Regions from separate parts of the Homo sapiens genome. Here regions 1, 2, 3, 4 and 5 are each linked to region 6. The links come from fine-mapping of genetic effects on gene expression. A gene starts in region 6. Each other region holds a variant in brackets. All regions are shown on one strand. Distances are between the middles of the regions.

Evidence for each region. PIP is the estimated chance that this variant, and not a neighbour inherited with it, causes the effect.
Region 1: its variant is fine-mapped to the expression of AP2A2 in whole blood (INTERVAL, PIP above 0.99).
Region 2: its variant is fine-mapped to the expression of AP2A2 in whole blood (TOPMed, PIP 0.99).
Region 3: its variant is fine-mapped to the expression of AP2A2 in whole blood (TOPMed, PIP above 0.99). The same link has a PIP of 0.9 or more in blood mononuclear cells and gastroesophageal junction.
Region 4: its variant is fine-mapped to the expression of AP2A2 in whole blood (TOPMed, PIP above 0.99).
Region 5: its variant is fine-mapped to the expression of AP2A2 in whole blood (INTERVAL, PIP above 0.99).

Annotation. Positions count from the first base shown.
Region 1 is chr11:950,854-954,934 of GRCh38, reverse strand. All of the region lies in intron 1 of AP2A2 (adaptor related protein complex 2 subunit alpha 2), which reads right to left. Among named protein-coding and RNA genes, the nearest start is that of AP2A2, 27 kb to the right of the region's middle. RefSeq lists enhancers at 1-236, 344-952. The variant A/C (reference allele first, on the strand shown) is at 2,330.
Region 2 is chr11:967,328-971,408 of GRCh38, reverse strand. AP2A2 (adaptor related protein complex 2 subunit alpha 2) reads right to left here. Exons shown (of 22, transcript NM_012305.4): 3 at 1,098-1,240. Among named protein-coding and RNA genes, the nearest start is that of AP2A2, 43 kb to the right of the region's middle. RefSeq lists enhancers at 541-1,040, 1,041-1,542. The variant C/G (reference allele first, on the strand shown) is at 2,402.
Region 3 is chr11:991,440-995,520 of GRCh38, reverse strand. It overlaps AP2A2 (adaptor related protein complex 2 subunit alpha 2), which reads right to left. Exons shown (of 22, transcript NM_012305.4): 11 at 2,836-3,018; 12 at 2,140-2,237; 13 at 1,536-1,767; 14 at 1,276-1,449. Among named protein-coding and RNA genes, the nearest start is that of MUC6, 43 kb to the left of the region's middle. RefSeq lists an enhancer at 713-1,237. The variant G/C (reference allele first, on the strand shown) is at 1,776.
Region 4 is chr11:996,558-1,000,638 of GRCh38, reverse strand. AP2A2 (adaptor related protein complex 2 subunit alpha 2) reads right to left here. Exons shown (of 22, transcript NM_012305.4): 15 at 41-207. Among named protein-coding and RNA genes, the nearest start is that of MUC6, 38 kb to the left of the region's middle. The variant C/T (reference allele first, on the strand shown) is at 1,800.
Region 5 is chr11:1,026,046-1,030,126 of GRCh38, reverse strand. It overlaps MUC6 (mucin 6, oligomeric mucus/gel-forming (gene/pseudogene)), which reads left to right. Exons shown (of 33, transcript NM_005961.3): 9 at 512-632; 10 at 761-899; 11 at 977-1,081; 12 at 1,166-1,238; 13 at 1,344-1,481; 14 at 1,740-1,901; 15 at 2,068-2,162; 16 at 2,310-2,442; 17 at 2,610-2,859; 18 at 2,934-2,986; 19 at 3,077-3,186; 20 at 3,649-3,800; 21 at 3,986-4,081. Among named protein-coding and RNA genes, the nearest start is that of MUC6, 8.6 kb to the left of the region's middle. The variant G/A (reference allele first, on the strand shown) is at 1,748.
Region 6 is chr11:923,813-927,893 of GRCh38, reverse strand. AP2A2 (adaptor related protein complex 2 subunit alpha 2) reads right to left here and starts at 2,024. Exons shown (of 22, transcript NM_012305.4): 1 at 1,806-2,024. The coding sequence starts at 1,872. RefSeq lists a silencer at 1,673-2,212.

The DNA of each region.
Region 1 (4,081 bases), 27 kb before region 6:
ATCTACAGATTTTATATAAGGTTGTGAAACCACAAACTAAAACAAACAGCACATAATGTAGAGTTATAGAGGTAACCACCAGGAGAAACAGGCAGTTAACCCCCCTCCTCTGTGGGACAGAAACAGAGACAAGTTCCAGCTTCCCATCCACAGCTTGCTTTTAATTGCCCAATTTTCAACACACACACACACAAATACACACACACACACACCAAATACACACATGCACACATTTACAAACACACATGAATACACATTTATACAAACACAAATACACATATATACACACAAATACACGTACAAGCACACATAAACCAAATACACACAAATACACAAATGTACACGCCACACACAAATATACATATACACACATTTACAAACACACATAAATACAAATACACAGATACACAGAAATACACACGTACACAAACACAAATACAACATATATACACAAATATAAACACAAATACAACATATATACACATATACATACATACACATAAACACAAATACATACACACACACAAATACACACATGTACACACACATGCATAAATACAAATATACGCATACACACACACTTTAAAACGAGGGCAGGCCAGCCCCTGAGGAGGGGGAGAAGCATGGAAGGTGATGACAAGAGTGAACTTTGGGGCCAGCACGTGAGGTGGGAATCCAAGTGAGGTGGGAATCCAAGTGCAGCCTTTGACTCATTCTGCTGTGCCTCTGAGCTCCAGCTCCCTCAAAAGGAAAGCCACCAACGGCCGTACAACCTCACGGCATCATGTCTGTGCAAGAGAAGGTAGAGAGGCCAGGCACAGTGACTCACGTCTGCACTTTGGGAGGCTGAGGCGGGCGGATCACCTGAGGTCAGGAGTTCAAGACCAGCCTGGCCAGCATGGTGAAACCTCGTCTCTACTAAAAATACAAAAATTAGCCAGGCATGGTGGCAGGCGCCTGCAATCCCAGCTACTCAGGAAGTTGAGGCAGAAGAATCGCTTGAACCCAGGAGGCGGAGGTTGCAGTGAGCCGAGATCGCGCCATTGCACTACAGCCTGGGCAACAGAGCAAGACTCCATCTCAAAAAAAAAAAAAAAGAGAGAAGGTAGAGAGAAGAGTAGTGTCACGTCTCGGCCAGACCTGAGGACAGGAGAGCCTAAGCAGCCCCAGTATCCACAGAGGGCTGAGCATGATGCAAGAACCAGGGATGGAGTGACCTGGCCCAGCGCCCCTACTGAGCAGAGACGACGCAAAAGCAGGAAAAAGGGGAGGTGCAGGGACAGCAGGCAGACGGAGGCAGACGGAGGCAGACGGAGCCAGGACGGAGCCAGGGACTTCCAACTGCAGCTGCCAGGCAGGCCACTGTGTGAAGACAATGGGGGGGGGGGGCTCTTACGGTAGAAAAGCCACCCAGACCATGCCTCCTCTGACAGTTCAGGAAAACTAATTTCACATAAAAATACGCATTCAGGCTAGGCGCAGTGGCTCACGCCTATAATCCCAGCACTTTGGGAGACTGAGGCAGGTGGATCACTTGAAGTCAGGAGTTTGAGACCAGCCTGGGCAACATGGTGAAATCCTGTCTCTAGTAAAAACACAAAAATTAGCTGGGCATGGTGGCGTGCGCCTGTAATCCCAGCTACTGGGGAAGCTGAAGTGGAAGAATTGCCTGAACCCGAGAGGCAGAGGTTGCAGTGAGCCGAGATCACACCACTGCACTCCAGACTGGGCGACTGGGTGACAGAGAGAGAGGCTGTCTCAAAAACAAGAAAGACAATCCAGCACGACCATGGCTGAGATGACGGATGATGACCTGCAGGCAAGACTGACACATTCAAGTCAACTACCATGTCCCAAATTTACCAAAAACGCTCTAGTAGAAGCTGCATGATCAACGCAGCACCCCTGCAGTCATGACGGACGCAGGTAACAATCTGAGCCCTCCAGTGCCTGTCAGGGGCTCTCCTGTAAAGGAGCAGAGCGTGCTCCTGGCCAGGCACCAATTCGTGCCACTGACACTGCACTGATCTCCATAAGGCAGAGGGCCTCACAGGAGGACTTCAACCACCCCACCGTGCCGGGAACAGATCTAGCAAAAAAATCTTATCTTTTTAGATAAATTAGCTTGAGGAGAAGCGGGGAGGAGCTGAATTCTGAAAGGGTAAAGCATGAGCAAGAGTAACTGACCCACAGCAACAAGCCCAGCCACACAGAGTCTGATCTTTGTTAAAGAGTAACTGACCCACAGCAACAAGCCCAGCCCCACACACAGTCTGATCTTTGTTAAAGAGACGCTGGCCACAGTCATCCTGCACTATTCCTGTCTGAA[A/C]TGCAGCCAGCCCATCAGCACTAAGGGTACTGTACTTGCATCAGGGAATTCTCGCAGTGAACTTAGGAGCTCTGGTGGCTAATGAGTAACCTGGACATGCCATAGCTACTGGCAAAAGCAAGTTACAATTTGCATTCCATGAAGTAGCAAAGAACACACTCTATAGGGGCAGGCTTGGATAAAAGCTCTTGAATTTTTACAATTATTGTCCCTGGTCATTCTTCAGGAACAGCATGCTGGTTAATGATTTCTTGTTTACAGGCTGAACTAATCAACAGAGAGGATTAGTATTCTGGGAACAGCCCAAGTTCCACAAAAAATAGTAAAGGAGCCTATGACAGATGATTATAAAATACCAAAGTACCAAAATCTTCTGTCCTTGCAATGTGCAGCAAAACTTGGTCTACAGAGTTTTAGTCTGTATATAAAGTGATTTCAGACTGGGCAGTGGCTCACGCCTATAATCCCAGCACCTTGGGAGGCTGAAGTGGGAGGGCTGTTTTGAGTCCAGGAGCTCGAGACCAGCCTAGGCAACATAGGGAGACCTGGTCTCCATAAATAATTTTTTAAAAAATTAGGTGTGGTGGTGCATGCCTGTGGTCCCAGCTACTAGGGAGGCTGAGGTGGGGGGAATCACCTGAGCCCAGGAAGTCAACACTCCAGTGAGCCAGGACAGACATCGCTGTACTCCAGCCTAGGCAACAAGGTGAGACTCTGTCTCAAAGAAATAAAGTGATTCCGCCGAGTAACCCAAAAGCCCAAAATTGACCAAGCCCAAGAATTTTTGAAGGAAGCTATAATTGCTAAAATTACTATTAAGGTGGTTAGCACAGCAGTCAGCCAAGCAAACTCTGAAATCAGGCCTGGACTGGAATGTCACTCCATGTTTTACTAGCTACGTGACCCTGGGCTATCAACTTAACCGCAACCTGCCTCGGTTTCTCTTCTTCAAATGGGTGTGCCATCAATGAAAGAGCTGTGATGAGAAGTGTGAAATAAGGAGCAAAGCACTGGTCCAGCCACGAGAAGCTACTGTGCCCATCACCAGGGATAAACTCACACGTTCTTTTTTTTTTTTTGAGACGGAGTCTCGCCCTGTCACCCAGGCTGGAGTGTGGTGGCACGATCTCGGCTCACTGCAACCTCCACCTCCCAGGTTCAAGCAATTCTCCTGCCTCAGCCTCCCAAGTAGCTGGAATTACAGGCGCCTGCCACTACGCCCAGCTAATTTTTGTATTTTTAGTAGAGGTGGGGTTTCACCATATTGGTCAGGCTGGTCTCAAACTCCTGACCTCAGGTGATCCACCCACCTCGGCCTCCCAAAGTGCTGGAATTACAGCTGGGAGTGCCTGGCCTCATCTTTTTTATTACAGCCATCTGGGTAAGTGTGATGCAGTATCTCATTGTGATTTTGATATGCATTTTTCTGATAGCTTTTATATGCTTATTGAACATTCGTAAATCTATTTGGAAGAAATATATATTTTAATACTTCATCAATTTTTTTTTTTTTTGAGATGCAGTCTCACTCTGTCACCCAGGCTGGAGTACAGTGACATGACCTCGGCTCACTGCAACATCCGCTTCCCAGGTTCAAGTGATTCTTGTGCCTCAGCCTCCCAAGAAGCTGGGATTACAGGTGCACACCACCACACCCAGTTAATTTTTGTATTTTAGTACAGACGGGGTTTCACCATGTTGGCTAGGCTGGTCTTGAACTCCTGACCTCGGGTGATCCACCTACCTCAGCCT
Region 2 (4,081 bases), 44 kb before region 6:
CTCCCGCCCTGCCAAACACCACTGCCCTTTCAGCCCTGCGCTCGCACGCCCAGGCCACTGCCAGGCACCACCTGCTCTGCTCTCCCTGCTCCTCCCACCCTCAGCCCCCAGTTAACTTCCCCTCCCTCCAGCCTCAGCTCAACACACCCACCTCCACTCCCTCTCTCAAATCCTTTCAACTTCTATGTCTGTGGAGCCATGTGACACCCATCTCCCCCAGGACAAGGGCAGGCCCAAGTTCCAGTCCCTGTGCCTCCGTCCTCAAGGCTAATCCCCCATCCCCCCAACACACCACAGGCACTCCACAAATGCTTGAATAAACACCAATACTTATCAAAACCCCAAGACATCTACAGTCTCTCTTAATTTCTCTAAGTTAAATTTTTTGACAAATGGAAGAAAATATTACTTTATACCACCAGGGAAAACATAGAAATAATGTGACTGCAAGAGACTACACAGCTCAACGTGCAGAGCCCAAGAAGACTTCAAAAGTAGAGTGACAGGACACTGTGCACCAGCCCGGCAAGGGCTGGGGAGATGGTGGGGTGAGCACCCTCCGCACCAAGACCCAGCCATGTGCCTCCAGCGCCTACTGCAGAAACAAAGCTGTCCAAGGGACCACGGGACGGGTCTACTTGGGACAGTGCGTCAACAAGGCACTGTGTCAGGGAGACATCCTCCCCTCCTCTGGAGGCCGACCTCATGGGCACAGAGCACCAACCACATCAAACGCTGGGCCGCGTGCGGCACTCTCCAGACCAACCGGGCAGTCCTGAAACTCGCCGTAAGGGAGGTTGCAAAGAAAGGAGGAAAAGGCATGGCCACCTCATCAGGAAAACCGCATGCAGGAGGAGGAACCCTGTGAGGGCATCAGGGCTTCCTGAAGAACACCCAGCTTGGGCGGGAAGGGGGCCCGCAGGGTGTTGGCAGCAGGTGCTAACAAGGACTGGGCACGCGTCTCCATCTGCAGCAGACCCACGTGGCTCACGTCAGCTGTGGGCAGAGAAGGAAGCAGCGGCCCTACACGGGCACCGGGCCTCAGTCCTGCCAGGCCCACGCCATCCTCTGCCGTCTCCACCTGCAGCGATACTCACGATCTGCTTTTCCGTGTATCTGTTTGAACTCAGCAGGTTCACAGCCTCCATGTGTCCAAAGTCAATGTCATGACCAAGGAGAAAGATGAAGAGCAACTTGCAGACGTACTTTTTTTTACTATAGCCATCAAGAGCCTTGTCACCTACAGAAAAGGTGGGGAAGAGGTTTTATTCCAGGCGGGCAGAGGCAGGGGAGAGGGGAGAGCAGAGGGCAGTGCAGCAGTACAGCAGGCAGCACGGACAAGCCTCCAGGAGAGGGGTGGCCGGGCCCAGGCAGGTGCAGTGCAGACGCTGCTGAGCATGAATAACCTTTCTAAACTCATGGTACTCATGAGAGTCCAAGTTTTTTATTTCCCTTTTAAAAACAGGCACCAGAACATCTGGCAACAAGAGTTCTACCCTCCCACGACAACCCTGGGCAGGTGCAGCCCAGCTGGCCCTCACAGGGCCTCACTCCGACCAGCCAAAATCCCACAGAGGGCCCTGCTGTGATGGAACTTGCAAACCCTGCCTTCAACCATCAAGCTTGTCTTTGAAATCAGTTTAATTTAGGCATATGAACACAGTCTAAATTATCTGCCACTTCATAGCCATTCTAGGGCAAATCAGCTGGTCATGAAAACAAGGCCCACACGCGACGGCCCCTAGGGCTTCTGTTTCTCTGCCTCATCGCAGTTTGTCTGAGCCCCTCACAAGGGATCATGGCAGGGCAGGTTCAAAACATGTAATTGGCAGAATATAAAATTCCAAAATATAAAACCAACCCTTAAAAAAAGGGCCATTCTGGGCCCGGCACGGTGGCTCACGCCTGTAATCCCAGAACTTTGGGAGGCCGAGGCAGGTGGATCACCTGAGGTCAGGAGTTCGAGACCAGCCTCAACATGGAGAAACACCATCTCTAGTAAAAATACAAAATTAGCCAGGCGTGGTGGTGCATGCCTGTAATCCCAGCTACTCGGGAGGCTGAGGCAGAGAATTGCTTGAACCTGGGAGGCGGAGGTTGCGGTGAGCCAAGACCACACCATTGCACTCCAGCCTGGGCAACAAGAGCAAAACTCCATCTCAAAAAAAAAAAAAAAAAAAAAAAAAAAGGGCTGTTCTACATTGCCAGGAGTTTCTATCCCACCTGAGAGGTGAGGGAGTGTCCCTCAGAGCCAGCCTCCAGCAGGCTGTGGAGGCGAGCGAGAAAGGTGGCCTTGTGCAGGCCGAGTCTCACAGAGACTCTGCTGCCACAGCGTGAAGGAACGCAGGCTGGGAAGACAGCCCAGCTGCGACAGCCGCTCTGGCCCCCTTCTTGTGAAGGG[C/G]TGGGGCGCTCACACCTCCACGGACGACCTCAACTGTGTAGAATACAGACCGGCCACATTTCCTGGGGAACGGTGCATCACCAGTCGGCCAGTCAGCTGCATGCTGCACTCTGAGGAGCTCATGAGAAACCCCCCTCCTTGTCAGCGGCAAATTAACATAATTTAAAAGACCAGATGATATAAATAAAAGCAGACCCGACCTGGTTCCTCCCTCCCCCGGCCCCGACCCACTTATCTGCTTGCTGTGCCCAAGGGGTCCCAGCAGACACGTTCTCCGTGCCCTGTTTGTGCAGGAGGGCACACACAGCTGAGCACGGGCTGCGCAGCAGAGATCCTCCACTGGGAAGCCCCAGCACCGTGTCTCCTACCCAGCCCAGATTCCATCACCCGCTGGAAGCCGCCTTGGACAACCACAGCCAAAAATACTGCTTGACCTCCTCCTCCCTCCGGAGACTTCCCTGTTACTCAAAGCACCTCTCAAAGGAAAAAATAACTGACAGGGGAGAGGACCAGCGGCCCGACTGGGCTGAGTTTTGTGGGACAGGGATGGGGACGGGGATGGAGACGGGGATGGGAACAGGGGCGGAGACGGAGACAGGCTCTCTCCGAGAGGAGCCGACCAGCCTCTGCTCCCGCGGGACCCCAGACGAAGAGCTGCTCTAGAGCTCCCGGGTGCTGGGAAACTTAGGCCCACCTTTAGAAGCTGAGCCCACTGGTCAGTGAGGGTGATGCAGGATCACCTCTGGGCCTCCCAGAGATGTCACAGAGCACTCCCCTGGGCACACCACCCCTGTTGCATAAGCACCGTGAGGGGCAGCGGAAGTCGCCAGCGCGAGGAGAAAGCCACAGTGCTCGGCCCGCTGCTCATGTGGCAGCACGTGGATTCCTGGCCTAACCCAGGGCCACAGGAAACAAGCAGCAATGCTCGCTCCACACCCTCACCCATCTCGGTGGGGCAGGTGGCAGGTGAGCCCGCCAGCTCCCCTGGCAGGTGCCACTGTGAAGTTTATCCCTCCTGAAAGGACCCAGACTGATACAGTCTTCAAAATGCTGGTTTCAGTACTAGGCTAGAATTACTTTTTTATTCTAGTAATTTCAAAATGTTGAGTTGAACTTTAATATTCTGAGCTATAAAAGGCAGAGGATAACAGTAATATCTGTCTCCTTGGTTTGTGCAGATCAGAGGAGAGATGGCTGGAAAACCTCATCCTAAACCATAAAAGGATCACGATTAAGTTTGGGCTCCAGTCTGAAAGATGCAGCCACTTGCTTGTCTTGTGGTCTCAGACGTATTCCTTAACCTCTCTGAGCCCAACTTTCTCAGCAGGTTACTATAAAAATGAAACAGGGCCGCGCATGGTGGCTCACGCCTGTAATCCCAGCACTTTGGGAGGCTGAGGCAGGAGGATCATGAGGTCAGGAGATAGAGACCATCCTGACTAACACGGTGAAATCCTGTCTCTACTAAAAATACAAAAATAAGCCGGGCGTGGTGGCGGGCGCCTGTAGTCCCAGCTACTCGGGAGGCTGAGGAAGGAGAATGGCATGAACCCGGGAGGCAGAGGTTGCAGTGAGCCGAGATCGCGCCACTGCACTCCAGCCTGGGTGACAGAGCGAGACTCCATCTCAAAAAAATAAAATAAAATAAAAAAATAAAACGAAACAGCACAGCACGGACGG
Region 3 (4,081 bases), 68 kb before region 6:
CCGATACTGGGTAGCAGCACTGGTTGCCACCACTGGACCTGCGTCCTGGAGAGACAGGTCCTCTAACTGGACAAACAGAAAGCCCGCCTGACCCCGACAGGAGCCCTCCCTGACAGTGCAGAGGGGAACAGCTGGCAAGCAGAGCCAAGCAAAAACGCAACTCTCAAAACGACACTTCTCACCTGACAAATACCACAGGACACATTCTGTTACAGGATTATTCTCATCGCATCACACATACAAGGAAAACCAGACCTAACCCAACTCACTACATAAAACCTCGAAGAGCAGGGCAGGACAGGTCCTCTCTAAATCAACAAAGCATGTGAGGACAGCTGCCTGGGTGAGGCAGTCCTGTAGGAGAGGGGACGGCCACTTCCCCTAAAACAAGGCACCACAGAGGATGTGTGAGCTGAGCTGGACAAGACGACGGTCTGAAGGAAGTGCCTTGCCCAGCAGGCACAGTGGCCCCCGGGAGAGGACAGCGGGGTGTGCAGCAGGGACAGTGGCCCCCGGGACAGGCCAGAGGGGCGTCCAGCAGGGACAGTGGCCCCCGGGACAAGCCAGCGGGGTGTGCAGCAGGGACAGTGGCCCCCAGGACAGGCCAGGGGGGCGTCCAGCAGGGACAGTGGCCCCCGGGACAGGCCAGCAGGGTGTGCAGCAGGGACAGTGGCCCCCGGGACAGGCCAGGGGGGCGTCCAGCAGGGACAGTGGCCCCCGGGACAGGCCAGCAGGGTGTGCAGCAGGGACAGTGGCCCCCGGGACAGGCCAGGGGGGCGTCCAGCAGGGACAGTGGCCCCCGGGACAGGACAACGGGGCGTCCAGCAGGGACAGTGGCCCCCGGGACAGGCCAGGGGGGCATCCAGCAGGGACAGTGGCCCCCGGGACAGGCCAGCAGGGTGTGCAGCAGGGACAGTGGCCCCCGGGACAGGACAACGGGGCGTCCAGCAGGGACAGTGGCCCCCGGGACAGGCCAGGGGGGCGTCCAGCAGGGACAGTGGCCCCCGGGACAGACAGCGGGGCGTCCAGCAGGGACAGTGGCCCCCGGGACAGGACAGCGTGGCGTCCAGCAGGGACAGTGGCCCCCAGGACAGGACAGCAGCGTGTCCAGCAGGGACAGTGGCCCCCAGGACAGGACAGCGGGGTGTCCAGAGCCACAGCCAGAGCCTGGGTTCTCAGTACATGCTCCTCCCTGACAGGCAAATGCTCTGCTGGTCCCAAGTCTTGGGGGTGAGGCCCTGACAGGTCTGGGTGCACAGTAGGTGAGGGACCCACCACGGCGCTGGTACTGGCTGGGGCAGGCTCAGGACCCCCGTTCACGTCCACACTCCTGTCCCGCTTGGTGTCCTCCAGGTCTGTCACCGTGCTGGGGCCCTTCTTCTTCTTGAGCTTTGCCAAGATGGAGGACTCCCGCTCCGGGAATGGGGGCATCTCCTCCAGCACGGTCGCCTTGGAAAGAACACAGGGTGGGACTGGTCAGAGCTCCTGGCCTCCAACCCTCAGCCAAGCCAGCCCGAAGGGCGGGGGCCTCCTACCAGAATGTCGGTGCTGGCCACGGTGCTGAGCCGCAGGTACTCCACAGCACGCTGCTGCAGCTCCACGTCTGCGTTCCTGAGCTGGCTGTCGCTGCGCAGCACGTCCTGGATGGTGGGCTTCACCTCCGGGAAGAGGTTCACGAACTTGATGTAGGTGGACAGGAGCAGCGCGCGGGTGGGGACGCTGCACAGGTGGAACTTGGAGTGCAGCAGGTGGAACTGGATCAGCGGGCTGGGGAC[G/C]GGGAGGCACAACACAGGGACACCGTCGTCCCCTCGCAGGCTGCAGCACGCCCCCGCGGGGGGGGGACGGCGGCGAGACCCCCTGGCCTGCACCAGAGGCCGCTGGTCGGGACCCTCTTCCAGCTCCAGATCCCACCGCAAAGACGCCCCTTTCACTAAGTCAGCCATCAACCCCACGTCTCCATTTTCTACTAGAATCCCTGCTTTTTCTATCAACTGAAGGAAAACAAAAAGACGCCGATGGGGAGCAGAAGCGGCTCTGCGAGGCCTCACGGCAGGGCCAGCTGGTGCCTCGCCTCTTGCCACCGACCACCGAGAGGCCCGCCGGAGCGCACACAGCCCCGACTCGCAAAGGGCCTCTCACCTGGATCTCGGGTCTCCAGCTATCAAGTTTCCAAACTCCCCCAGGATGTAGCCGCCCACTTTGACCAGGTTCTCGTGGCACGCGGGAGCCTGAAGAGCCTGCGAAGCACAAACAATGAGCCGGGGTGGCAGCCAGGTGCCAGAGTTAAGGCGAGGCGGGCACGTCCTGGCGCGGTGCACCCTACACCAGCACCAGCCCCTCAGCTTCCTGGAGACCCCAGTCCAAGTGCCCATCCCTGCCTTCCTCAGCACCCTCAGTACCTGTGTCAGCAGCAAGGAACCCAAGGCTGCCACACGCTGACCTGCCCTGGAGGGAGCTGCAGCATCCACAACAGGCTCTGGCTGGGGAGGTTCTGCCAGCGTCCTCATGGCACACCCCTTGCCGGTGGCCTAACCCTCTCCGACGGACAGGGCAGGCCCCACCACGGCATGCCCCAGCATGCTCTCACACACACAGAGGCCGGCTTTCTCAGGTGGCCCCCAGAGAGCCAGAAGTTTGAGAGTTAGGGTGAGAAGAAACTGGGACTCAGCAAGGGGCACCAACAGTGGAGGAGCTAGAGCCTCAGGGAAGAGCTGAGGGGCAAGAGGGGTCAGCAACGGCCCTCGGCACCTCCACGCAGGCAGGCTGGAACCACTCACTGCTCACCTTCTGCAACTGCCCTCCACCCCATCCTTCCTGCCATCCTGCGGGCCATACCTCGAACACAGTCTTGGCCGCGTAGCCCTGCACGTCGTCCCGGTTGATGACGATCTGAATGACTCGGTACCACACCTCTTCACTCACGTAATCACCAGCAATTCGGATCAAGTTCAAGATGGTATCCACATACCAGGTGTAGTCCACCGCGTACTTCTCAGCCAGGATGGCGACCTTCAGCACCTGTGGGGGACAGGCTGCTGAGGGCCGGCACCTGCAGGCCATGGCAATCCCAAGACCAAACTGTCGTCCAAAGTCAAAGTGAGAGTTTCAGAAGCACCTCAATGTGTCTACAAAAGTTTGGGACATGGAGGAAGCTTGAACTCGATTCTCAAAAAAGCCCACGAGCCCAGAAAGTTTAAGATGCCCTGACTTAAGCAAAGAAAGCCAGGAAGAGGCGGAGACCAGTGCACAGAAGGCCACGGCCACAGCCAGGCCACCTCCCACCTGGGCCCTTCTCTCCCAAAGCCCCAGCACCTGGCGGCAGCACTCCTCTGACCTCATCACCCTAGGCTCCCGGTGGCAGCACTCCTCTGACCTCTGACTGCGCCACCCTGGGCTCCCGGCGGCCAGTGACTGCGCCACCCTGGGCTCCCGGCGGCCACTTCTCTGCTGGTTTCTTCCGGCTCTGGCCAGTCTTTCCTGCGAGCCTCACCTGGGGGTTCCCCTTCTTCCCCTCTCTGGCTCACTCTCACGGGTGCCCCCCGGAGGCACCTGCCCAGCCCACACCCACGTGGCAGCCACCCACATGGAGCTCTGCCAGGCTGTACAACACCAAACTCATCTCCCCAAAGTCACCTCGCCTGGAACCAAGCCCCCTTCGAACAGCGCCAGCTGCCAACACCAACGCCAGCAGGCATCAAGACCGCGCACCTCCCGAGGGCACCCCTAATACCCTGCCGCCCCTCCCCACACCCTGCCGCCCCCTCTCCACACCCTGCCACTGGCCTCTCAGGTGCTGGTGACTGTGCCCCCCCACCCCAAGTCCCTGCCTGGAGCCTGGACCCCCAAACCCCAACCTGACTCCGTGACACTTCCAGGGCATCATTCCAAAATGTACTGCCTCTGAGCCCTACCCGCAGCTCACGGCTGTGCACCAGGGGCCCTCAGGCCTCACTGGCAGGGTCCCCATGTCTGCTTCCACCCCTGCCTCGCGTGCCCTGCTCCCCAGCCTGTGCTAAGGTACCTCCCACCCCTCCACGAACGGATGCTCTGCCCTCCCAGTAGCCTCTGCACCATCATCCTC
Region 4 (4,081 bases), 73 kb before region 6:
AGCCCCGTGCCTGTCTGCAGGACTCAGGAAACCTGACTACCTGGCAAAGTTGTCTTCGGAGCCAGGAGCGAGAGGCGCGACCACAGAGGCCGAGTCTGAGAACACGTCCACGAGCAGCCCGCTGCCGCCGGAGGAGGGTGGGGGGCCCGCGGGGGCAGGGGGGGCAGCCCCGAGACCCAGCAGGTCTGCCGACGGAGAAGGCGTAGACTGGAAGAGAAGGAAGGAGAGCATCAGCAGAGAGCCTCCCTGGCCTGGCCAACCCCAGGCAGCTCACGCCTGCACGTCCTCCCCCATGGCACCCCCTTGGCATCCATGCACTCCCAGTGGCTGGGGCAGGTGGCACACAACTCAGTGAGTGACCAGAGAGTGAGGGCTAACAGCCACTTCCTGAGTATATCCCAGACTCCAGCCTAAAGATAACTGCACTTAAAACATCAGTCATAATTTCACTAAGGCACCCTACATTTTTTCACAAATGCTATTTGAATGAAAAAAATTCTCAAAAAAATTTTGCCATGAAAGACATAAAAAAAGGCCAGACGCGGTGGCTCACACCTGTCATCCCAGCACTTTGGGAGGCCGAGGTGGGCGGATCACGAGGTCAGGAGATCGAGACCACCCTGGCTAACACGGTGAAACCCCATCTCTACTAAAAAATACAAAAAAAATTAGCCGGGCGTGGTGGTGGGCGCCTGTAGTCCCAGCTACTCGGGAGGCTGAGGCAGGAGAATGGTGTGAACCCGGGAGGCGGAGCTTGCAGTGAGCCGAGATCGCACCACGGCACTCCAGCCTGGGCGACAGAGCGAGACTCCATCTCAAAAAAAAAAAAAAAAAAGAAAGAACTAAGATCATGCATGTTACTGCCAACTGTCCAATAAGAAAGTAAGCTTCCAAAGATGAAAAAGCAAATAACTTACTCGGGTGCATTATTAATCATTAAATTATTACTAAATCATTATTAATCATTAAAAGTCTACAGAACGGATACTTTTAAAAAATAATTGCTTTTTGGCTGGGCATGGTGCCCCACACCTGTAATCCCAGCACTTTGGAAGGTTGAGACAGAAAGACTGCTTGAGTCCAGGAGTTTAAAACTAGCCTGGGCAACATAGCAAGAGACTGTCTCTGTTTTTGTTTTTTTTGAGACAGTCTCACTCTATTGCCCAGGCTGGAGTGCACTGGTGTGGGCTCACTGCAACCTCCACCTCAAGCGATTCTCCTGCCTCAGCCTCCCAAGTAGCTGGGATTACAGGTGGCCGCCATCACGCCCAGTTAATTTTTGTATTTTCAGTGGAGACAGGGTTTCACCATGTTGGCCAGGTTGGTCTCGAACTCTTGACCTCAGGTGATACGTTCACCTCGGCCTCCCATGAGCCACCGCACCCGGCCCCAGTAATTGCTCTTTGATCCTGGGGCAAAGGCACAAGGAAAGAGCGCCTATGATCTCATGATTAAACTCTCACAACAGGGCACAAGCAGCAGCTCAGTCCATCGCATGCTCACCCATCCAACAGGGCAGCAGGCTCCCCAGCAATGCCCCAGCAGCCTGACTTTGGGAGCTCAGACCTGCTCTGGGCTCCACGGGTCCTGCCCCACAGCAGCCTGTGCACCAGAGGGACTCAGATGCTCCCTATAAAAAGGACACCCAGCCTGGCACGGTGGCTCACACCTGTAATCCCAGCACTTTGGGAGGCCGAGGGGGGCAGATCCCAAGGTCAGAAGATTGAGACCATCCTGGCCAACATGGTGAAACCCCGTCTCTACTAAAAATACAAAAATTAGCTGGGTGTGGTGGCACA[C/T]GCCTGTAATCCCAGCTACTCAGGAGGTGGAGGCAGGAGAACTGAAACCAGGAGGCGGAGATTGCAGTGAGCCAAGATCGTACCACTGAACTACAGCCTGGCAACACTCACACTTTGACACTATACACCAGGGGCTCTTGGTGGAGAAACCCCCCACCCAGCTAAGAGCGTTCTGGAGATGTGGAGGGCTCTGACTATCACAAGGATATTGGCATTTCACAGGCAAAAAACAGAGACACAAGACACCCTAACTTGAAGATTCGTCTTGAGTAACTTTAGAATGTTCCACTGGACATCTAAGAAGGTAAAAAATTAGTTTGTAATTATCTGAGACTCCACCTGAATGCCATTTTACATTAATGCAAAGTTAAGGTGTCACACTGTACTTTCAAAAAAACTACATGTGTGGGTTTGTGATATATGAATTTTACTCAAAGATAAATGAGGCATCACAAAGTGTGTTATGCAAAAAAGGTGCAGGTCAGAATGGGGGCGGGGGGTCAGAATGGGGGCGGGTGAGAGTCAGAATGGGGATTGGGGGGCAGTCAGAAACGGGGCAGGCTCCCAGGCTCTGCTCTTGTGACGGAGCACCTCTGCAAGAGAAGACGACACGGGTCTCATGTGCTCCAAGGGTGGGAGGTCACAGAGGAGCTGGCAGAGAAGAGTCCCAAAAATATCCAAGGCGTGTCTCGATGAGACCATCTGAAGGCGGCGCTTTGCTCCCTACGCCGGGGACAGCGCCCGCCAACACTGTGGCCTCCACAGCCTGACAAAGCTGTGAGCTGCGTGGGAAGCCATCGGCCTTGGCCATGGCCATGCACCTGCAGCCCAAATGGAGACAGTTTCTCCTCTGCATCTCATCACAGATGTTACCCTGGTTCCTGCACTGATTCAAATACATCTATGGCTTTTATTTTATTTTATTTTATTTTTTTGAGACCGAGTCTCACTCTGTTACCCAGGCTGGAGTGCAGTGGTGCAATCTCAGCTCACTGCAACCTCCGCCTTCTGGGTTCAAGCAATTCTCCTGCCTCAGCTTCCCGAGCAGCTGGGATTACAGGCACACACCACCACACCTGGCTAATTTTTGTATTTTTAGAAGAGACGGGGTTTCACCATGTTGGCCAGGCTGGTCTCAAACTCCTGACCTCAAGTGATCCGCCCACCTCAGCCTCCCAAAGCGCTGGGATTACAGGTGTGAGCCACCATGCCCAGCCATCTATGGCTTTTAACTGCTTTCTAAAGTAGGAAAGCCCTTTGCCCTAGTAAAGGCATTTGTACCTGAAACGTTACCACAGATTGTAACAGCGAGGCCAGATGCAAGGCCCCAGGACAGTAGGGTCCTAACACCCACTTCAGGTTCTTCATCTTCCTTATCCTCTCAGGCCTGGGAGACCCTCCTCAGGGAGCAGGCCTGGCTCCTGGGCCACACCAGTTCACCTCCTCCCTCCAATAGCAGGACAACTTGAGGGGTGAAGGTTTTGCCTACAAGGGCCCCAGGCTCCTGCATGTGAAGCCAGGCAGCCTCTGATCCCCACACCCCTGTGCTCCCCAGCACACCCGGGGACACGCACACCACAGCCTCCCCCAAGGAGCTGTGTGCAGAAAGAGGATGCTCGGAAGAAGTAAAATGTCCTGGCCTCATCTATGATGTTAAATAAAAGACATTTTGGCCAATGTGACACCAAGATAAAGCCACTGTCTCTCGTGGGAAAGGCACATGTGCTGATGCCACCCTGAGGCCCCTTCACGGCCCATACAGAAGACCCTGAGCAAGAAAACTTCGCCAGGAGTGTCTCCCCATAGGGAGGGGCCTCTCACTGGGGCTCCCGTGAGCAATGGGAACAGATTGGAAAGCACAGGATAGCAATGACACCCACACACCATAGCTCTCGGTCAGAACAGAGGGGCCCACACACCACAGCTCTCGGTCAGGACGGAGGCGCCCACACACCACAGCTCTCAGTCAGGACGGAGGTGCCCACACACCACAGCTCTCAGCTCAGAACAGAGCTGCGTGCCTCGGCCACAGACACCTCCCTAAGGAACCCACCCGCCAGGCACCACTGACCATCAGGAGTGAAGCCACACTCAGAAAATCCACTGAATGAGCCCTGAAGGGGGAACTCCCTCCAAGAAGGCACCTTACAGAAATGCTGAACCTCACTGGACCCTCATCCTCCTTTTCAGAGGGCAGCACACTGCTCTCACTCCCAGGGTCCAGAAGCTTCCATCTGATCCCTAAGCCACACAGTCAAGGCCAGGCCCTCCAAAGTCCACCC
Region 5 (4,081 bases), 100 kb before region 6:
CCCAGGTCACCCCAACATTCTGCTGCCTGAGTCCCAGCTCTGGCGCCTCTTGCCCTGGGACAGGCTTTTCCCGCCTGGACGCTTACAGCCTGCAGGTCCCCCAGCCACGGCCACCCCTGCAAACCCACGGGCGGTGAGGGCTGCTCACTGCGGTCTAGGAGCTGCCGAGGGAAGGCAGGGTTTGAGCCGGGCCCAAGGGACAGTTACACGTCCCTGCCTGCTGGAGGCCACCACTCACCAGGAACCTGGGCCGGGCACATTGGCACGAGGGGCTGTGCACGCCCAGGGCCTGACATAGAGTTGCGAATGCAAGTGCAGCTGGAGAGAGGTCATGGCCCAGGCTAGAGGGGGCGTCTCCCTGGAGCCAGGCTGGAGGGGCGTCTCCCTGGAGCCAGGCTGGAGGGGGCGTCTCCCTGGAGCCAGGCTGGAGGGGGCGTCTCCCTGGAGCCAGGGAGGGGAGAGTGGGAGGCAGTCAGTCCCACCCAAGCCCCAAGAAGACCCTCTCCTGCAGGTACGGTCCTGAATGACCTCTCCAATAACCACACCTGCGTGCCCGTCACCCAGTGCCCCTGTGTGCTCCACGGCGCCATGTATGCCCCCGGGGAGGTCACAATAGCTGCCTGCCAAACCTGGTGAGTGAGGCGCCGGAGGGGGCTCTGGCCGGCCGGCAGGGGTTCCACTGGCCTAGGGCAGGCAGGGGTGTGCTGTCTGGCTCCAGCGGCCCTGCCCACCATGCCGCTACCCCCACGCCCACCCACAGCCGGTGCACCCTGGGCCGCTGGGTGTGCACGGAGCGGCCGTGCCCCGGACACTGCTCCCTGGAAGGTGGCTCCTTTGTTACCACATTTGACGCCAGGCCCTACCGCTTCCACGGCACCTGCACCTACATCCTCCTCCAGGTAGGACGAGCCCTGTGGCCCGTGGGGAGGGGCGCTCCCGGTGACCCCACCCGTGTCTGAGCCCCGCCCCCTCGCAGAGCCCCCAGCTTCCCGAGGACGGTGCCCTCATGGCTGTGTACGACAAGTCCGGCGTCTCACACTCCGAGACCTCCCTGGTGGCTGTGGTCTACCTCTCCAGGCAGGTAAGGCCTTTCCTGCGCCCATCCCTGCCAGCAGGGCTCCGCTCCCTGGTGCCTGCACCCTGACTCAGGCCACCCTCTCTCCAGGACAAAATTGTGATCTCTCAGGACGAGGTGGTCACCAACAACGGAGAAGCCAAGTGGCTGCCATACAAGACTCGTACGTCCTGGCCCAGTCTGTGGCCCCCCAGAGTTGTGCCTTCGGGGCGGGCTGCAGTGGGTGGGGAGGGAGCCCAGACGGCCCACTGAGCACTGCGTCCTGCAGGCAACATCACGGTCTTCAGGCAGACGTCCACCCACCTCCAGATGGCCACCAGCTTCGGGCTGGAGCTCGTGGTCCAGCTGCGCCCCATCTTCCAGGCCTATGTCACTGTTGGGCCCCAGTTCAGAGGTCAGACCAGAGGTGAGTCCCTGCCTCTCCAGGTGGCCCTGTTGCCTCATCCCTACAGGGTCTGGCCATGACCAGGGGAGGAGAAAGGTCCAAGAGAGGTTCACACAACCCTCTGTGTCCGGGGAGCCCCCAGGGGTAACAGGCACGTGTGGCCCACGCAGCCTCTCACCCAGGGTGCTGTTAGAGGAAGGACGGGAGCTCCAGGGCGTGTGGGCAGGAATGGGTGCAGGAGGGATGGGTTCAAGTCGAGCTCACGCCCCGCCGGCTCAGGGCTCTGC[G/A]GCAACTTCAACGGGGACACAACGGATGACTTCACCACTAGCATGGGTATCGCCGAGGGCACCGCCTCGCTGTTTGTGGACTCCTGGCGGGCGGGGAACTGTCCGGCCGCTCTGGAGCGTGAGACTGACCCCTGCTCCATGAGCCAGCTCAACAGTGAGTGTCCGGCCCCCCACTCCCCTGGCTGCCCCCCCAGCGCCCACAGTTCTGACAGACCCCTGGACTGGACCACAGGCCCAGCTGCCAGGGTGGGGGGTCCCTGGGAGGAGCCGTAGCTGGAATGGGAGGGGCCGGGACTCACGCCCGGGCCTGTCATCCCCAGAGGTGTGTGCAGAGACCCACTGCTCCATGCTGCTGAGGACAGGCACGGTGTTCGAGAGGTGCCACGCCACAGTGAACCCTGCACCCTTCTACAAGGTGAGGGCCCGAGGGCGTCTTGGGAGGGCTGCAGGGGAGGCTGTGGTGGCTGACAAGGTCTCAGGCACCCAAGGGCATAGGTTTGGGACCCCCATGTCCCCAGGGCAGGGTGCCTGCCACCAGCCCATGCTGGCTCTCTGCCCGCAGAGGTGCGTGTACCAGGCCTGCAACTACGAGGAGACCTTTCCCCACATCTGTGCCGCCCTGGGCGACTACGTACACGCCTGCTCCTTGCGGGGCGTCCTGCTCTGGGGCTGGAGAAGCAGTGTGGACAACTGCAGTGAGTGCCCGACGGGGCTTAAGCGGGGTCACGGCAGGCTGGGCTCACGAGGGGGTGTCCTGGGACCCCAAGCTCTGAGGCTCTGCAGTGCCCGGCAGGCAGGGGAACCCGAGATTGCCCTCCCGGCCGCCCCCTCCCGGAGAGTCTGATGCCCGGGTCCCCCACAGCCATCCCCTGCACGGGTAACACCACCTTCAGCTACAACAGCCAAGCCTGTGAGCGCACCTGCCTGTCGCTGTCGGACCGTGCCACCGAGTGCCACCACAGCGCCGTGCCCGTGGACGGTTGCAACTGCCCCGATGGCACCTACCTGAACCAAAAGGGCGAGTGTGTGCGCAAGGCCCAGTGCCCGTGCATACTGGAGGGTTACAAGTTCATCCTGGCCGAGCAGTCCACTGTCATCAACGGCATCACCTGGTGAGGGACCGGGCAGGGGCCAGGCGGGGGGTCCCTGCCAGGTCCCGGGGTCTCACGCAGCCTCTCTCTTGCAGCCACTGCATCAACGGGCGGCTGAGTTGCCCGCAGCGGCCACAGATGTTCCTGGGTACGTACAGCAGCGCTGGCCGCAGGCTGGGACTGTGAGGGGCCCCGGCTTCCTCTGAGTGTCCTGACCGCGCACCCCTCTTTCCTGCAGCCTCCTGCCAGGCCCCTAAGACCTTCAAGTCCTGCAGCCAGTCCTCCGAGAACAAGTTTGGGGCAGCCTGTGCCCCCACATGCCAGATGCTGGCCACCGGTGTTGCCTGCGTAAGGGGGCGCGCGAGGAGCAGGGACAATGCCCGGGCCCCAGCTGAACCATGAGGGGGTTTCCACAGAACTCCGGGAGACCTGGCCGCATTCTGCCCTGCAGCGGGTGCCTGGGGCTGGCCACGAGGTGGAAGCGGCCCTGTGGCCAGGCAGCTGGAGGCCCCGGGGGCTCGTCTGCAGGGCTCCCTAAGGACAGTGGGCACCAGCTCGGGGAGGGTGGGCTGCCCATGTGTGGGAGTGGGTACAGCAGCCCAGCCGTGTGCACTGGGTCCCAGGACCTTCCACGAGGTGGGGGAAGCTTTGCTAAGGCAGTAAGCCCAGCTGCCCACAAAGGCCACAGAGCAGGGCTGTATTCAGGGAGAGGACCTGGGAGACACGCCGGGCAGTCTCAGAGGGGCCCAGGGCTGGGCAGCAGCTGGCTGAGGCCACCCTCCCAGGAGCTGCTGACCTGCCTCCCTCCAGGTGCCCACCAAGTGTGAGCCTGGCTGTGTCTGCGCCGAGGGCCTCTACGAGAATGCCGACGGGCAGTGTGTGCCCCCCGAGGAGTGCCCATGTGAGTTCTCGGGGGTCTCCTACCCTGGAGGAGCTGAGCTCCACACTGACTGCAGGACCTGGTGAGACAAAGCCTCGCTTCAGACGCCCTGGGCTCCTGGGGCCATCTGGGGCAGGCGGAGGCTGCCCGGGGTGGGGCTGTCCCAGAGGCGGGGGCGTCCAGAGGTGCAGTCTGGCCTCTCCAGGGACCACACCCAGTATGGCAGGAGGGCCGCAGGCCCACCACCCACACCTGCTGTCTCCACAGCTCCTGCTCAAGGGGGAGGTGGGCCTGTCAGCAGGGCACCCACTGCCCATCCACCTGCACCCTCTACGGGGAGGGCCACGTCATCACCTTCGACGG
Region 6 (4,081 bases):
AAAGAGAAAAAATGCTACTCGTAAAAGTGCTGATCTGAGGGTGTTTCTAAGCCTTTTTTTTTTTTTTTTTTTTTTTTGTGAGAAAGGTCTCACTCTGTCACCCAGGCTGGAGTATGGCGCGATCTCAGCTCACTGCAGCCTTAACCTCCTGGGGTCAAGTGATCCTCCTCTCTCAGCCTCCCAAGTAGCTGGGACTATAGATGTGTACACCAATACGCCCAGCTAATTTTCGTATTTTTTTGTAGAGACAGGGTGTTACCACATTGCCCAGGCTGGTCTCAAACTTCTGGGCTCAAAAGATCCACCTGCCTCAGCCTCCCAAAATGCTGGGACTATAGGTTTGAGCCACCGCACCCAGCTCTATGCTTTTTTTTTTTTTTTTTAACAGAGTACAGGAAGGGTTAGATGGTCCTCTACCCTTCCACAGAGTGTGGGAGAACCACTATCCTCCTGATCCTCCATCCCGTCTAAGGAGATGAGAATTCAAAGGGAAGATCACAACAGTCCCTCAAAATACACATTAAAAATTATGAGGGTGCCGTGGCTCACGCCAGTAACCCCAGGACTTTGGGAGGCCAAGACAGGTGGATCACTTGAGCTCAGGATTTCGAGACCAGCCTAGGCAACATGGCGAGACCCCCCCATCTCTACAAAAAACACGAAAATCAGCCAGGCATGGTGGTGGTGCACGCTTGTAGTCCCAGTGACTCCGGAGGCTGAGGTGGTAGGATCACTTGAGGTGGGAGGTTGAGTGCGCCGTGATGGAACTACTGCGCTCCAGCCTGAGAGCCAGAGCAAGACCCTGTCTCAAAAAAAAGAAAAACAAAAATCATGAAGTCAACTATTTGCTGGATAACAAGGAAAAAAATCAACGCAGCAGACAGGAAACTGGCTTTGTTTCTCCCTCAAATTAAATAAGGAGATGGCCTCTGAAAGCCAAGAGGAGGTTCTGCACACCAAAGTCAAATTAATTGGTGGACCGGTGCACCCACCCAGCCACCCTGCACATCCTTCTAACAGGCCCAGCCTTCCTGGCTTGTTTAACGGTTTGGTGTGGATTTTTCCCACCCCGAGGGGACAGGCACGGGGCTGAGAACGAGGTCTGTGATTGGAGCAGCAGGCAGCGAGGCCATCCCACACCCCGACTGCTGCTCGTGTCCAGATTCCCTCCGGGAATGAGTCATTTTAATCGTCGTAGGTGAGATCTAATCAGGGGTTAATAAGCCTCCAGAACCCAGGTCACAAAGCTGTTTCCTGGGAAGACACTGATTTCCAGATTTCTGCTCCCAAAGCTAAAATCCACGCCGTTTTGGAAAACGCTGGGTTAAACGCTCCAGTACTAGAAAGACCAAGGTGACATCATGCTGGGGAGGGGCGTCTTGGCCCGGAACCCCCTTGGTGGTGCCGCAGCCCCCCGCACGGACCAGCAAACGGGAGTGGAGATGTGGATGAAGGGCCGTGCCCTAAACCCCTAGACCCCGCACCCCTAGACCCTGGACACCCCACCCCGCACCCCCAGACCCAGGGCCCCGCTCTGCATCCTGACCCGCACCCCCATACCCGATACCCCAAGACTCTGAGCGCCGCCCGCACCCCCAGACCCTGGACCCCCACCCCGCACCCTGGCCCCCACCCCCAGACCCGGTACCCCAAGACCCCGAGCGCCGCCCGCACCCTCAGGCCCCGGGCCCCGCCCGCATCCCAGCCTGCACCCCCGCCTCGAGGCCCCGCCCCGGGCCTCCGCTCCCAGACCCCGTCTCCGCCGGCGGCCCCGGCCCCGGCCCCACGCCGCCCCCGCCACTCACAGTTGCGGATATCCGAGATGAAGACCGCCAGGCCCCGCATCCCGTCCCCCTTGGACACGGCCGGCATCTTCCGACGCTCGGGAGCGGCCTCGGCTGGCGGACCCGGGCGGAGGAGCGCGGGGAGCGGGAAGCGGGGAGTGCGGTCGCCGTCACCGCCGCGGAGGAGCCGCCGGGGAGCCGCCTAACCACGGCCGCCTCAGGGTCCCAGCGCCGCTTTCTGGGCCGCCGCGCGCGCGCACGTACGGCGCCCGCACCAGCACGCACGCGCACGCACGCGAGCGACGACGGACGGCGGCCGGGGCGGGTGTCGCGTGAGGCAGCGCGCGCGCGTCCGCGGCACGGGGGCGAGCCGGTCGAGGCAGGCGCGGGGGCGCCCCCTGCAGGCGGACACCATGGACGGAGCCGCTGAAGCCACGCGTTCGCGTCCCGGGGCCGCGCCAAGCTGGCGATGCCGCCCGCGTCCCCCACGGGAAGGGCGTGGGTCCGGGCGGGAACCCGCGTGTGCAGCGGGCCGCCTCTGTCGTTGTTGGTGGTCACTGCAAAAGAGGCGGCCACGCAGGCACACGCGTACGGCCTCGTCCTGGGCCTCGGCCCCGCTAGCTTGCCCCGAGCAGTCTCCGTTTTCTTACTTGGAATAAACGACCTGTGAGCGCTGGGCGGCGGGGCAGCTCCGAGGCCAGGGCCTTGTTTGTTCCGCGGGGGCCGGGGCGGGAGGGCGGCGCCGGGAGGAAGCTGGGGCTCCAGGCGAAGGGGTCACAGCCGCTGGACGGCCTTTGGCGAGGAAACCCTCCCCTAGCACGGTATCCTGAGACGGTGGGGCTGGCCCGCCCCTCCTGCCGCCCTGAGCCGCCAGGGCCACATCTCTTGCGGTCCCTGAGCTGGGGGCGAGGCAGGCCCCGTGCCCGACCCAGCCCAGGGTCTGTGTGGCAGCCCAGGTGCCCCCTCCACATCACCTGGGCCTGCAGAGAAACAACCACCCACCCCACCCCAGTGACAGCGGCCGGGGGCGGCAGCCCCTGCGGAATCTAGTCCCTCGGCGGCGCCAGGACTTTTGGCCACTGTTGCCAGGGCCCCCTCTGCTCCCCAGCCCTCTGCACCACTGCAAGCTGGAGGCCTAGGCCCACCCCTGTGGACACATCGCAAGGGAGGACCTGCTGGGCCAGGCTGCACAGCTCCAGGTCCCGGCCAGGAAGAGACCCCAGGGAGTGGGGAAGCAGATGGCCCTGCCTCACTGTCCTTCCCAGAGCCAGATGGCTTTGAACAGGAAGCTCCCTCCTGCTGCAGTGGGGGGATCTGGACCCTGTACCTGGAACTGGCCCAGACCCACCAGCCAGGGCTTTGTCCCCACCCTGGCTCACTTCCGCAGCCCCAGATGAGAGCTTAGCCCTGGTGGAGCCCGGCCAGGAGGAGGGCACAGGACCCATGCCCCTCCCCAATGAACCGGGTGCCGCACCCAGGCTCTGGGCCTCCAGAACTCCTGGGGAAAACCAAGATCTGTGACAGACCCCAGTCAGCATAAGGCAACCAAGTCCATCACTTCCCAAGACAGAGGCACGGAGCCGACCCAGCAGAGGGCTTCCTGGAGGACGGTACACCCCTCCGGAGTCCCTATCCTCTCCCAGTGCCACCTCCTGGCAGAGAAAGTGGTCCCGGGGCTGTTCATTCTTCAGCCTCTCCCTTCCACCAAGAAGCTTCCCTCCCCTGTCCCTGACAACAAATAAAGGCCATTCTGGACACAAGAGCATCTTGTGCCATGTGAGGGGTCCTGGGCTGCTCTCCAGGACAGTCCCAGCAGTCACGAGGACCGTCCACTAACACACGTGGGCAGAGCATGGGCTCTGGGCGTCAGGAGGCTGGCATGCCTAATCCAAGCTCCCATTGGCAGTGGCAGTGCAGAAGACCGAGACAAGCAGACCACTGTGCCCCCCCACCAGCAGCCACTCACAGAGCAGGGCAATGGGGGTGCTGCAGGGGCTGCCCACAGGAGGGCTTGGGCCTGGCAGGCATCCCCCTCCGCCCACTCGGAAGACTCCTCCTCAGTGCCAGCTCTGGGATTCCCACAGACATCCTCCCGTCCACACAAGAGTGTTTAGGGGTCCCAGAAGGCCCGACATGCAGCCATGCAAAAGACTTCCCACCTCCTTCCAGCGTCGTTGCCCTTGCAGACACGCAAGCCCTCCAGATGATTCACTCCAGTCCCAGCCTTGGGTCTGAGTCCATGTGGGCCTCTCTGACCACTGCCACTCCTCGGCTCGGGAGAGGCCAGCTTCGGGAGT